Linked DNA regions of Homo sapiens: region 2 is linked to region 1. Evidence: fine-mapped expression QTL. A gene starts in region 1. The other region holds a variant in brackets. All regions are shown on one strand. Distances are from middle to middle.

What was found. PIP is the estimated chance that this variant, and not a neighbour inherited with it, causes the effect. A credible set is the group of variants that fine-mapping cannot tell apart.
Region 2: its variant is the best candidate, but not a certain one, in a credible set for the expression of PRSS3 in cerebral cortex (GTEx, PIP 0.90).

Annotation. Positions count from the first base shown.
Region 1 is chr9:33,792,959-33,798,331 of GRCh38, forward strand. PRSS3 (serine protease 3) reads left to right here and starts at 2,603. Exons shown (of 5, transcript NM_002771.4): 1 at 2,603-2,655; 2 at 3,685-3,844; 3 at 4,871-5,124. The coding sequence starts at 2,616. All of the region lies in intron 3 of UBE2R2-AS1 (UBE2R2 antisense RNA 1), which reads right to left. RefSeq lists an enhancer at 3,152-3,652.
Region 2 is chr9:33,749,386-33,754,758 of GRCh38, forward strand. All of the region lies in intron 3 of UBE2R2-AS1 (UBE2R2 antisense RNA 1), which reads right to left. It also overlaps a transcript of PRSS3 not described here. Among named protein-coding and RNA genes, the nearest start is that of PRSS3, 43 kb to the right of the region's middle. The variant G/C (reference allele first, on the strand shown) is at 2,337.

The DNA.
Region 1 (5,373 bases):
TGAGCTTGGGCAGCTGGATCTGAACCTATCCTACACATCTGAGTCTACAGTATGAGGTAACAGTCTCCACCTATAGCTATCTTCTCTGCCTGTAAGGTCATTCCTTTTTGAAGAAAGCTGACCTCAGACTATACTGTGATCATTTAAGGAAGAGCGCAAAATACTGGAGAAGGCTAATCTTCAAGCTCTAGATACAGAAAATCCTCATATTCTTGGGTGTTCCTTTCAGACAGAGTCAGAGCCACAAGCACTGATCCAAAAATCCCGTTCTCCAAAAAAAGTTTCCATCTTCTGCCAAGGTTCACCTCCCTATTTAGTGCACACTGGTGTCTACAGTTGCTACAGCAAGAGCCTTTCCTTATCCTCTAAGGCAGGAGTTGTGTGAAGACCCCATGACAAGGGGACAAAATGAAACAACATGTTTAGGGGCAACACAGGAAAAACCCATATTATCAATGCTCCAAAACCTGGATACCTCAGGCTTGGCCAGTCATTTGTGAGCAGAGAGGTGTGTCATCTACATGGCAGTCATGGCCTGGATGGGTCTGGAACTGTGGCAAGGGAAGTCTCTGAGACAAGGTGCCAGGAGAAAGATGAATTCAATCATCTATTTCTGCCAGGAAGAAAAGCAGGAGGAAGGAATCAGATGCACAGTTTGTCCTCTGGGGACCTCTGCCTTGATCCTCAATAAATCTCCTTTTAGATGTCACCTGCAGCAATTCCCACAGTTCACAATGATCTCCATGGCTTCCGTTGGCCTTATGGTGAGCTCTGCCAAGATCTGTATTCTTGGGCAAGACAGAATCCTTCTGAATCTCAGTCTCTTCCTCTATAAATGGAAATAATTTTGCTCTGCACAAATCACAATTAGCATGTTTGTGGGAAGTCAAACTGTGAAACTCAGCATAACTGAAAAGCAATGTACCACTGTTGCTTATGTGAAAACTCTTGTAAAGCTGTCAGGCACCATGCACCATCTAAGTACAGCAGTGTTAGGTATGAGCCCATCAGTGATTAGAGGGGATGTGGGGTGGAGAGCGGGTCTCTGAGCAGTGGATCTCCTGGCTTTGGGGAAGCTGGCTCGTTGGCCATGCCAGGAGCTGAACCTGAAGGTACTCTGTGTGTCCTCTCAACTCCACGGGCCCCACATTCGCATTTTTTCCAATTCCCTCTGGTTTCCATTTGCTTCCTCCCTCTAGCCCCCTGGCCATGTCCGATCTCAACACGAAGTTTCTGAGCTTTTCTCATTTTGTTCACCATCTCCAGAACATCTCTGCTTCTTTTACTTTTCAAAGAATTTAAACTTGAACTCTGCTCACTCCTGCCCATCACCAACCTGAGCTCAGAGTTGCTGAGAAGGGAAAGCACCCTCATAAGGAAGCTCCTCCTTTCCTTACATCATTAGACTTGATCACAGACAGCATCTCCATCTCCACACTACTCTGGCCAGGTTGTGCCTCAGTCAATTACACAACTGTGTCTTAGTAGCCTTGGTAGGGCCCAAATCAGGATATTCTCTGGGAAGATTCACTTGATACTAAGCCCAGCATAATCTCACTGCATCTAAAATAGAAAATTCTAGACCCACCCCTCCACATCTTCTTATTGATCCCAATATGTGACCCATTTACCATGTGCTAAAATCTCTACCTACTGCTGATTCTCAGATCAGATGGTAACCCAGATTTACCATGGTCCAAACTCTGACATCTGATCAGGGGCATGTCATTCTGGTTCAGGCTGTCAGCCCTGAGCAGGTGAGTCAGTTTGCATCACCCTAAGTGCAGGTTGCCAGGACAACCGTGAGGCTGCATAAAAAGAACCTATGACAGGATGCACATGAGAGAGACAAGTGGCTTCACATTGAAGAAGGGGAGGAGTGCGCCATTGGTTTTCCATCCTCCAGATGCACTGAGTAAGCTCCTACCTAACCTGTGTCCCCTCCTTCTTTGAAACACTTCCCATCCTTTTAAGCCTTGGTAGGAAGGAGAGCCATCTGGAAGCCCAGAATCCTATGGAATGCTAAGTCTCCCTTCTCCTTACCCCTTAGTGTTGGAATTCTGGATACCCAAAGTCTTGGATTTGACCTTTGTGCACAGTGACTGCAAAGAAGCATATTCATATTCACAAAAATGAGCCTTAGATAAGACTTTCCTCCTCTCGTGGGGGCTCCAGGAAACTGAAAAGCCAAGCTTGTTACCAATGCTTGCCCTTCCTTAAGTACATTATTAAATACATCCCCAATAGTTAAAAGGACTCCTAGACACCCAGGCCATTCTCCCTCCTTCTAACCCTCATCTCCTCGGCCTACGAAAGCCCAGCTGTGTGATCCGGGGATTGGTTTCCCCTGTCTTCCCCATCCCAGCATCCTTCCAGGAAATAGCCAGTCTCCCTCTCTGCTCTCAGAAGGCAAGTTTCCTTATCACCTGTGAATCACAAACCCACAGAGTGGCCAAACGTAGCCGAGCTGATGCAAGACCCTGGCAAGGGGAAAGCTGCAGGTGTGTTTGTGCTGGGAAGAACTGTGACCCTCACCTCACAGACACCTCCTCTCCTGATTCTTGGAAGGGTATAAGGACAGGCCTTCCACCACCAGTCAGGCACACTCTACCACCATGAATCCATTCCTGATCCTTGCCTTTGTGGGAGCTGCTGGCGAGTTTCATGACCTGCCTCAGGCCCCACCCACCCCCTTTCCTGGCAGACACATGCCCTGCCATTCTTGCCACCTCTCCTCTTTTGACTGCGCTCTGATATTCTATTTCCTCCATCTGACATATCTCCTTCCCATCCTCCTTGGGCTCTCTTTAAGCCTCACCTGTTTCACCTTTTCCCTCATTTCACTCCCACCACTGTCATTCATCCATATCCGAGCTGTGGTTGGAGAAGCTGGGAAGGGAGACCAGGTGGGGCTGGCCCATGAAATGAAGTGGCAGGCTTCAGGCTTGGCTCCAAGAGCACCAGTATAGCACCACTATAGCTGCTCTTAACCTCGAATGCACCTGGGGAGGTTCAAAAATTACTCATGCCAGAGATTCAACTCTAGAAGTTCTAACTTCATTTGTCTGGGGTGCAGCCTGTGTACTGGGCTTTTAAGCTTCCCAGGTGATTTTTAACGTTTCCAGGCATGCCGCCAAAGTTAAGAATTGCTCTTCTATTGGCCAATAACAAAGTCTACCTTTGTTATGCCAAAGTGAGCCTGGGGCTGCCCTCAACTCTGCCCTCACTGCACAGATCTGAGCTATGGGGGAAGCTAGTCATGGCCAGGTCTACCCAGACAGGGGGTTTTCCTAGCTTAGCCAAAGTATCCTGACAATCCAGGGCTCAAATAGCCAGGGCAAGTACACAGGTGATGAATAAAAGAGAGAAGCACTCAGTGGGTGAGACAACAACATACCAACTGCTACCCCACTGGAAGCATTTTGAGGACATTCCTTGCATCCTCAGCCTGGTGTCCCCAGGAGAGATCTGAGCCCCTGCAGGGTACCTAGCTACGTGCCCTGCAGACACAGAGACTTGGGAGCCACATCCAGTGATGCTCACCAGGGGTGGCAGCGCTCCCTCCCTTGCCTGGCCTCACTGGGCTTGTTAAGGATTTCTAATTGGCAGGAAGCAACCGCAGGCTGGGAGCACCACCCCTAACATGCTACTGACTTGCCTTCTCCCTTCCTATTTCCACTCCAGTTGCTGTCCCCTTTGACGATGATGACAAGATTGTTGGGGGCTACACCTGTGAGGAGAATTCTCTCCCCTACCAGGTGTCCCTGAATTCTGGCTCCCACTTCTGCGGTGGCTCCCTCATCAGCGAACAGTGGGTGGTATCAGCAGCTCACTGCTACAAGACGTAAGTGTGGGGCCCCTGACTGCAAAGCTCCCAGCCAGGCTGCCTGGGAGAGCTTGGCTTCAGCCCAGGGAAGTACTGAGGTTGGGTAAGACGGATGGGAGAGGTGGTGGAAAAGAAAACTTGTTGACAGCAGCTGACTCTCCAGAGCAAGGCCAATCCATGAAACAGCAAGGGTTGTGGTCATAAAAGCAGGCAGGGATAATCTTGGAGTTGTCAGAGCTAGTGACAAAAGCAGGCAAGTACCTTTTGCTGGTTAGCTACACATTAAAGCGACCTAAGACAGAGTTTTTGAAAATACTGATGCCTGTGTCCTACCCCAGGGCAATTAACTCAAACTTCTCAGGAAGACAGTGTGAATACCAGTGAGTATTTAACACTCTACCTCTGGTAACTGTAGAGTGTATAGACAGAGCTGAGAACCGCTGCCTACACGAAGAACTCTCAAACCTGAGTATGCGTCAAAACCACCTGCAGGCTTATTAAAGCACAAATCACTGGGTCCCATCCCCAAGGTTCTGATCAGCGGGTGGGGGTAAGGACCAAGAATTTACATTTCTAACAAGTTCCCAGGAGATGCTAATGCTATGGCTACCCTTGGATTAGATTACACAGAAGGGTGGTGCTCACTAGGCCAAGAAGGGAGGGAGGAACAGGCGCTGTGCGCAGTTAGCAAAGACCTGGGGTGAAGAATGCTGGGAAAACTACGAGGAGCTCTTTGTGCCCACAGTGCTAGTGACTGTGGAGATTTGTGGGAAAGAGGCTGGGAAGGCAGGTTGAGGAGCAGCCTCTGGTGGGATCCCTTTGACTCTTCCCCACCCCACTACCACCAGCCTCTGAAGCAGAAAGGTCCTGGGTCTCACACCTGCACTGACCCACATCCCTCTCCTGCCCATGCAATATGGCCACACACCCCACCCCATGCCTCCAGAGCTATCCATGAGCAGTGAGCTTGAGGACCCTGGGGAAGGTGGGAGGGGTGCCCAGGCTGTGGGAGAAGGTCTTCACCATGCCTGCCCTGCCCATCAGCCGCATCCAGGTGAGACTGGGAGAGCACAACATCAAAGTCCTGGAGGGGAATGAGCAGTTCATCAATGCGGCCAAGATCATCCGCCACCCTAAATACAACAGGGACACTCTGGACAATGACATCATGCTGATCAAACTCTCCTCACCTGCCGTCATCAATGCCCGCGTGTCCACCATCTCTCTGCCCACCACCCCTCCAGCTGCTGGCACTGAGTGCCTCATCTCCGGCTGGGGCAACACTCTGAGCTTTGGTGGTGAGTGGGACCCTTTGTCCTTCTACTTCCCCCCATCCTCACAATTTCCAGAACGAAGCATGCCCCTTTATTTGAATCCTCTTGCCTCCCGGCTTAAGACACATTTCTAGTGCCCATTACACACAGTCTCTGCACTGGGCACCAGAGAGATGCAAAGTCTCAAGGACTTGGCTCCTAAAATCAAGAGATAGGACAAATGGAGAACTTGCTGTGATCACGTCTTGGGAGGGGTTCAACAATGATCATTCT
Region 2 (5,373 bases), 44 kb before region 1:
ATGTGGGAGGGGACCCGAACGGGGAAGCTGGCCGCGATGGCCAGCCTTTATTCCCTTATTGGCCCCGCCTGCATCCTGCTGATTGGTCCATTTTACAGAGTGCTGATTGGTCCATTTTACAGAGTGCTGATTGGTCCGTTTTTACAGAGTGCTGATTGGTGTGTTTACAAACCTTTAGCTAGACACAGAGTGCTGATTGGTGCATTTACAGTCCTTTAGCTAGACAGAAAAGTTCTCCAAGTCCCCACCAATTAGCTGGACACAGAGCACTGATTGGTGCATTTTTACAGAGTGCTGATTGGTGTGTTTACAAACCTTTAGCTAGACACAGAGCGCTGATTGATGCTTTTACAATCCTTTAGCTAGACAGAAAAGTTCTCCAAGTCCCCACCAATTAGCTGGACACAGAGCACTGATTGGTGTATTTTCACAGAGTGCTGATTGGTGTGTTTACAAACCTTTAGCTAGACACAGAGCGTAGACACAGAGCGCTGATTGATGCTTTTACAATCCTTTAGCTAGACAGAAAAGTTCTCCAAGTCCCCATCAGACCCAGAAGCCCAGCCAGCTTCACCTCTCAGTAGCTTACAGAAGAGGACCCCGCTGCCACAGCACAATACCACAAAGAAAGTCATGCGCTCCTCAGCAGGAAGCCCCCTTCTCCGGGACAGGGACTTTGTTTCCTTCTCAGCTCTATTGCCAGCACCTAGAACTGTGCCCACCTGTCAGATCTGTTATCAGATGGGAACGTGGCAGATTTGTTGAATGAATGAAGGAATGAATGAACTATGTGACACTCAAACTTAGCCACCAAACTTAAACTAGAAAAACTGGGTTGTGGTCCCTGATGGACCGTTGGTGCCTTCTTCCTTTGCTGGACGGTGATCTGTGGCTGTTTCTCCGGTGTGTTCGCAGTGGTTGCCTGGCTTGGTAACAAACACTCTTCAGAGCCACAGCCTGTGCTCGGGCTCCTCGCCGCCTCCCAGGCCCTGCGATCTCTTTGCATCCCAGGAGGTCCCGGTTGGTTGCAGTCCTCCTGGGTGACTCAGGAACCAGCCTCTCCTGAAGCACACAGCCTAGGGAGTTCCTGGGGCCAGAGACATCTCCAAGGGAAGGTCAAGGGCCTGGAGGATGTGCGGACCTGACGACAGATGCCCCGCACGCTGGCCGGGACCGGGAAGGGCGGTCAAGTGTGGAAAGGGTCTGGCGGCTGCCAGGCCTGGCAGAGTGGAGCGGGGCGGGGCGCAGCGGGGCGGGGCGGGCCTGGAGCTGCACCCGCTTCTGGGTGGACGCACTTGGCGAGCGGCGCGGGATGCAGACGGCTGCGAGGCGCTGGGCACAGGTCAGACGTCAGTACCCGCAGGGGGCTTGAAACTGGAGGAGGGCTCGAAGGGAGAGGGAGCCCCGCCAAGGAGCGGGGCTGTGATGGAGAGGGGGTTCCGACTCGCATGGGACCTGCGGGGGAGGGTACGCGGACAGGGAGGGGATACCGACTGGGAGGGGCTCAGGGACAGGGATGGAGGCTCCTCTAGGGGAGGACGGGAGGGGATGGAGGGCCCTGGTGTCGCAGAAGCCCACCTGGGGCCCCCTCCGGGCTGCGGCACCGATGCGCACACTACTCCCACCGCCCCCGAGTGCCTATGTCCGGCTGGCCGCGGCCCTGGAATGAATATTGCTCAGTCCCCCGCGAGTCAGGTCTGCCGCGTTGCAGGGTGAGGGGAAGGTGTGAAGCCCCGGGCCTCCGTCTGCCCCGTGAGTCCGGGAACGCGCGCCCCCGTGGATGCCACCTGGCCCCTGAGCTGTGTCCAGTCACAGCTCACATAGCTCTGGGCACTGGTACCCCGACTGCCTTTCCTTGTTAGCTGCGATACACAAATACATGAGCCAGATCCTTTCCTGAGGCCAGGAAGCCTGGAATCTAATAACATTGGGCGGTGGATAAAGTCCCCCGATCCAGTGCTTAGCTTCCGTTAATGGAGCCATGGATGGAAGCGGATGTCAGGCGCAGTGGGGGAGAAATTTGCGGGGGTGGCCCTGTCTAGGGCCAGAGAAACAACCTCTGAAGCTTAGATCCAGCCCTAGAGGGAAGAAAGATGTGAGTTTCAGCCAGGGAAACCTAGCACTTTAAGAAATAGAAACCCTTTCAAAATTTGAGGGCAGGTAGCTCTCCTAAAAGTTGCAGAAATGGCCACTTCTTTCACGTTCTCTTCGACTGCTTTCTGCCGTGTCTGCCGTTTTCCTCCTCCCGCACCTTTTTGTCTCCTAGGGTGGCATAGCCTTCCAAACAGATCTGCCTACAGCATTTTACCTGCAATTTTACACTGATTTTATAGAAA[G/C]GATGGCTTATTGTTCATGAGAAACGTGTACTGTTTTTAACCAGATGTGTTATATTTTCAGTATAACCTGGGTGTTGTGCAGTGGGAAATTACGGAAAGAATCAGGACACGTGGTTAGGTAGGGGCCCAGTGGCGTCAGACTTAGCTCTTCGTGACTGCGAGCTTCTTGGTTTAATAAGGATATTGGCTCGCTCTGTTCCTGGGGTTTCTGGGAAAAGATATGGAACTGAAATGAAGGTTTCATTGAATATGGCCCACTGATTTTACAAGCAGAGGTGCCTGAGATAAGCAAAAGGTGAGGCATGACCTCTGGCTGTGCATTATTTGTTCTGATATTACAGGAGCCAAGCATTCCACTTCCTTCTTTTTAAAGAGCTTTGATTTCCTCTCACATCTTCATGAAGAAGGAAACAGTGCCCCCACTTACTTATCCTCAGGCCACACCTGTTCCCATTTATTCCGTGAGTTCCTCCCGCACCCTTCTGGTTGATGTTGGTTGTGATGGCCGAGGCGAAGTTATTGAATCTCACATTTGGCACCAGTTGTTTCTGTTTCTCATCTCCCCCCTACCTTCAGTTAAACATCAGCTGCTATACTTAGCTGTTCAAAGTACAGATGTTAACTGTGTTGGGTGTGATCAAAAGATTATCTCTTTTCCTCAAATGTAAAATGGGTGAGGACAGTTTCACCACACAGAGTCACTCCCCTAGCCAAAGTCCTTGCTATTGCAAAACATTTTATTGTAAGAGAATTAAAGTCACTAGTGTGTCAACTAGTGGTACTTATAGACACATTCCATATTTGTTTGTGTAGACAGATCATAAGACAAACACTAGATTATTCCCAGTATGAGACCATACTGAATATGAACAATTAGAGGCCACAGGTGAGTGCTGTCCTCCTCACACTTTCTTTGAACTCTTAAGCTTCTACCCTTTTAACCAGCCAGCCCTCTCCCCGAAACCTTCACTGAGGCTAGAAACAAACACAAAGAGACTATCTGAATTTTAGCGAATTTTATCTCTCTTTTCTGTTCTCTTGTGTAAAAACTAAATGACCACAAACTACACCGCTGGAGGAAAAAGGAAAGCTAAAAGGTCTATCAGCCTTCTGTATGTGATGCAGAGTTCAACTGAATATAGCAAGGTACACACCTGCATTCTCCTTGCCAGGACTTAGATATCATAAGCCATTATCTTGCTGGTTGTTGAAATCGTAATGGGGCTTTATAGAGCACAAGGCGATGTTTGTAAACAGCACTGTTCAGGCAAGATTAGAATCCGTATTTCAAAAATGAGGAGATGGAAACAGAGATATTGTGTATGTGGTCCAGGGTTAGCCAGGAATTAAATGGCAGAGCCGGAGCTCAAACCAGCATTCCTTCCAGAATACCACAGCTGCCTCTGGAGTGGTTTTTGTTGTTCTTGTTGAATTTTGTGATGGAAGATTGTGATTTGTTTTTCCTGAACACTTAATATGTTTTCTGACTTGAACTGTCAGAATCTAAATTTAGAAACTCTCATTTGGTATATTTCATGTCCATCTTTGTTCCATATAATTACAAAAATATCTTAGAGCTGGGTATAACCTTAAAGATTGTCAAGTCCAATCTTGTGGTTTTTCAAAGAAAAAAAACGGATTTAAAAAAATAAAGCAAGTACCTCATGTTGCTTCCCCAAATCTACTTCATTGGAGAATTACAGCTAAAAGCAATGTTCAGATTATTGCTCCTTCTGTCATGTGGTCTCTTGAGAATTTGCCAAATGTATAAATCCAGTGACTTATTTTGATGTACTCTTTTGGTTTGAGGTCTGTGACAGCAAACATAACCTCCCTGAATCCCAGCCTGAAATGCCTATGTACCTTCTGTTCTAACTGTAGCCGTTATTATAGTGGCTAAAGTTCTAACTTCTGTTCTAACTGTTCTCCTGGTTCCATGACAAACAGAGCTTTACTTGTCTTATTCCTAGCACAGTGCCCATAGCAGGCATACATAAAATGTGGTCAGTATGTCAGATAAACATCTGAAAAAGTATGACATGTCATTAGAAGTTCATTCAGCTACAAGAACAGAAAACCCTACTACAACGGCTTAAACAAGTAAGGAGTTTGTTTTTCTCAGAGAAGGAGAAGTCTGGAGGTGAGAAGCCTGAGGCTGGGAAAGGGGTTCCGATATGAACTCATCTGAGACAGGTTCCTTGTGTCTTCCCGCACCACCCTCCTTAGCATGGAGCTCTCATCCTCACTTCCCCAAGTTGCAGCAGAAAGACGGGCAGAGGCATGCTCCAGAAGAGTCTTGTCTTGTCTTGTCTTTTTTTTTCTTTTCTTTTCTCTCTTCTTTTCTTTTCTTTTCTCTCTCTGTCTCTCTCTCGTCTCTTTCTTTCTTTTGAGATGGAGTCTCACTCAGTGGCACAATCTCAGCTCACTGCAACCTCCGCTTCCCAGGGTTCAAGTGATTCTCTTGCCTCAGCCTCCAAGTAGCTGGGATTACAGGCGTGCACCACCACGCCCAGCTAATTTTTGTATTTTTAGTAGAGACGGGGTTTCACCATGTTGGTCAGGCTGGTCTTGAACTCCTGACCTTGTGATCTGCCCCCCTCGGCCTCCCAAAGTGCTGAGATTACAGATGTGAGCCGCCGCGCCTGGCTTGTCCTTCTTTATAATAAATAATAATAATAATAGCTTTTCTGGTAGCCCACCCCAAAAGACTTCTTACATGTCATTGGCCAGAACCATATCACATACACACTATTAAAGGTGAGGGAACCTGAGAGAATCTAGTGTTTTAGACGGACACGATGCCAATACATCAAAGTAAGAATTTTGGGCCAGGCACAGTGGCTCACGCCTGTAATTCTAGCACTTTGGGAGGTCAAGGCGGGTGGATCACCTGAGGTCAGGAGTTCAAGACCAGCCTGGCCAACATGGTGAAACCCCATCTCTACTAAAAACACAAAAAATCAGCCAGGCATGCTAGCAGGTGCCTATAGTCCCAGCTACTCAGGAGGCTGAGGCAGGAGAATCGCTTGAACCCAGG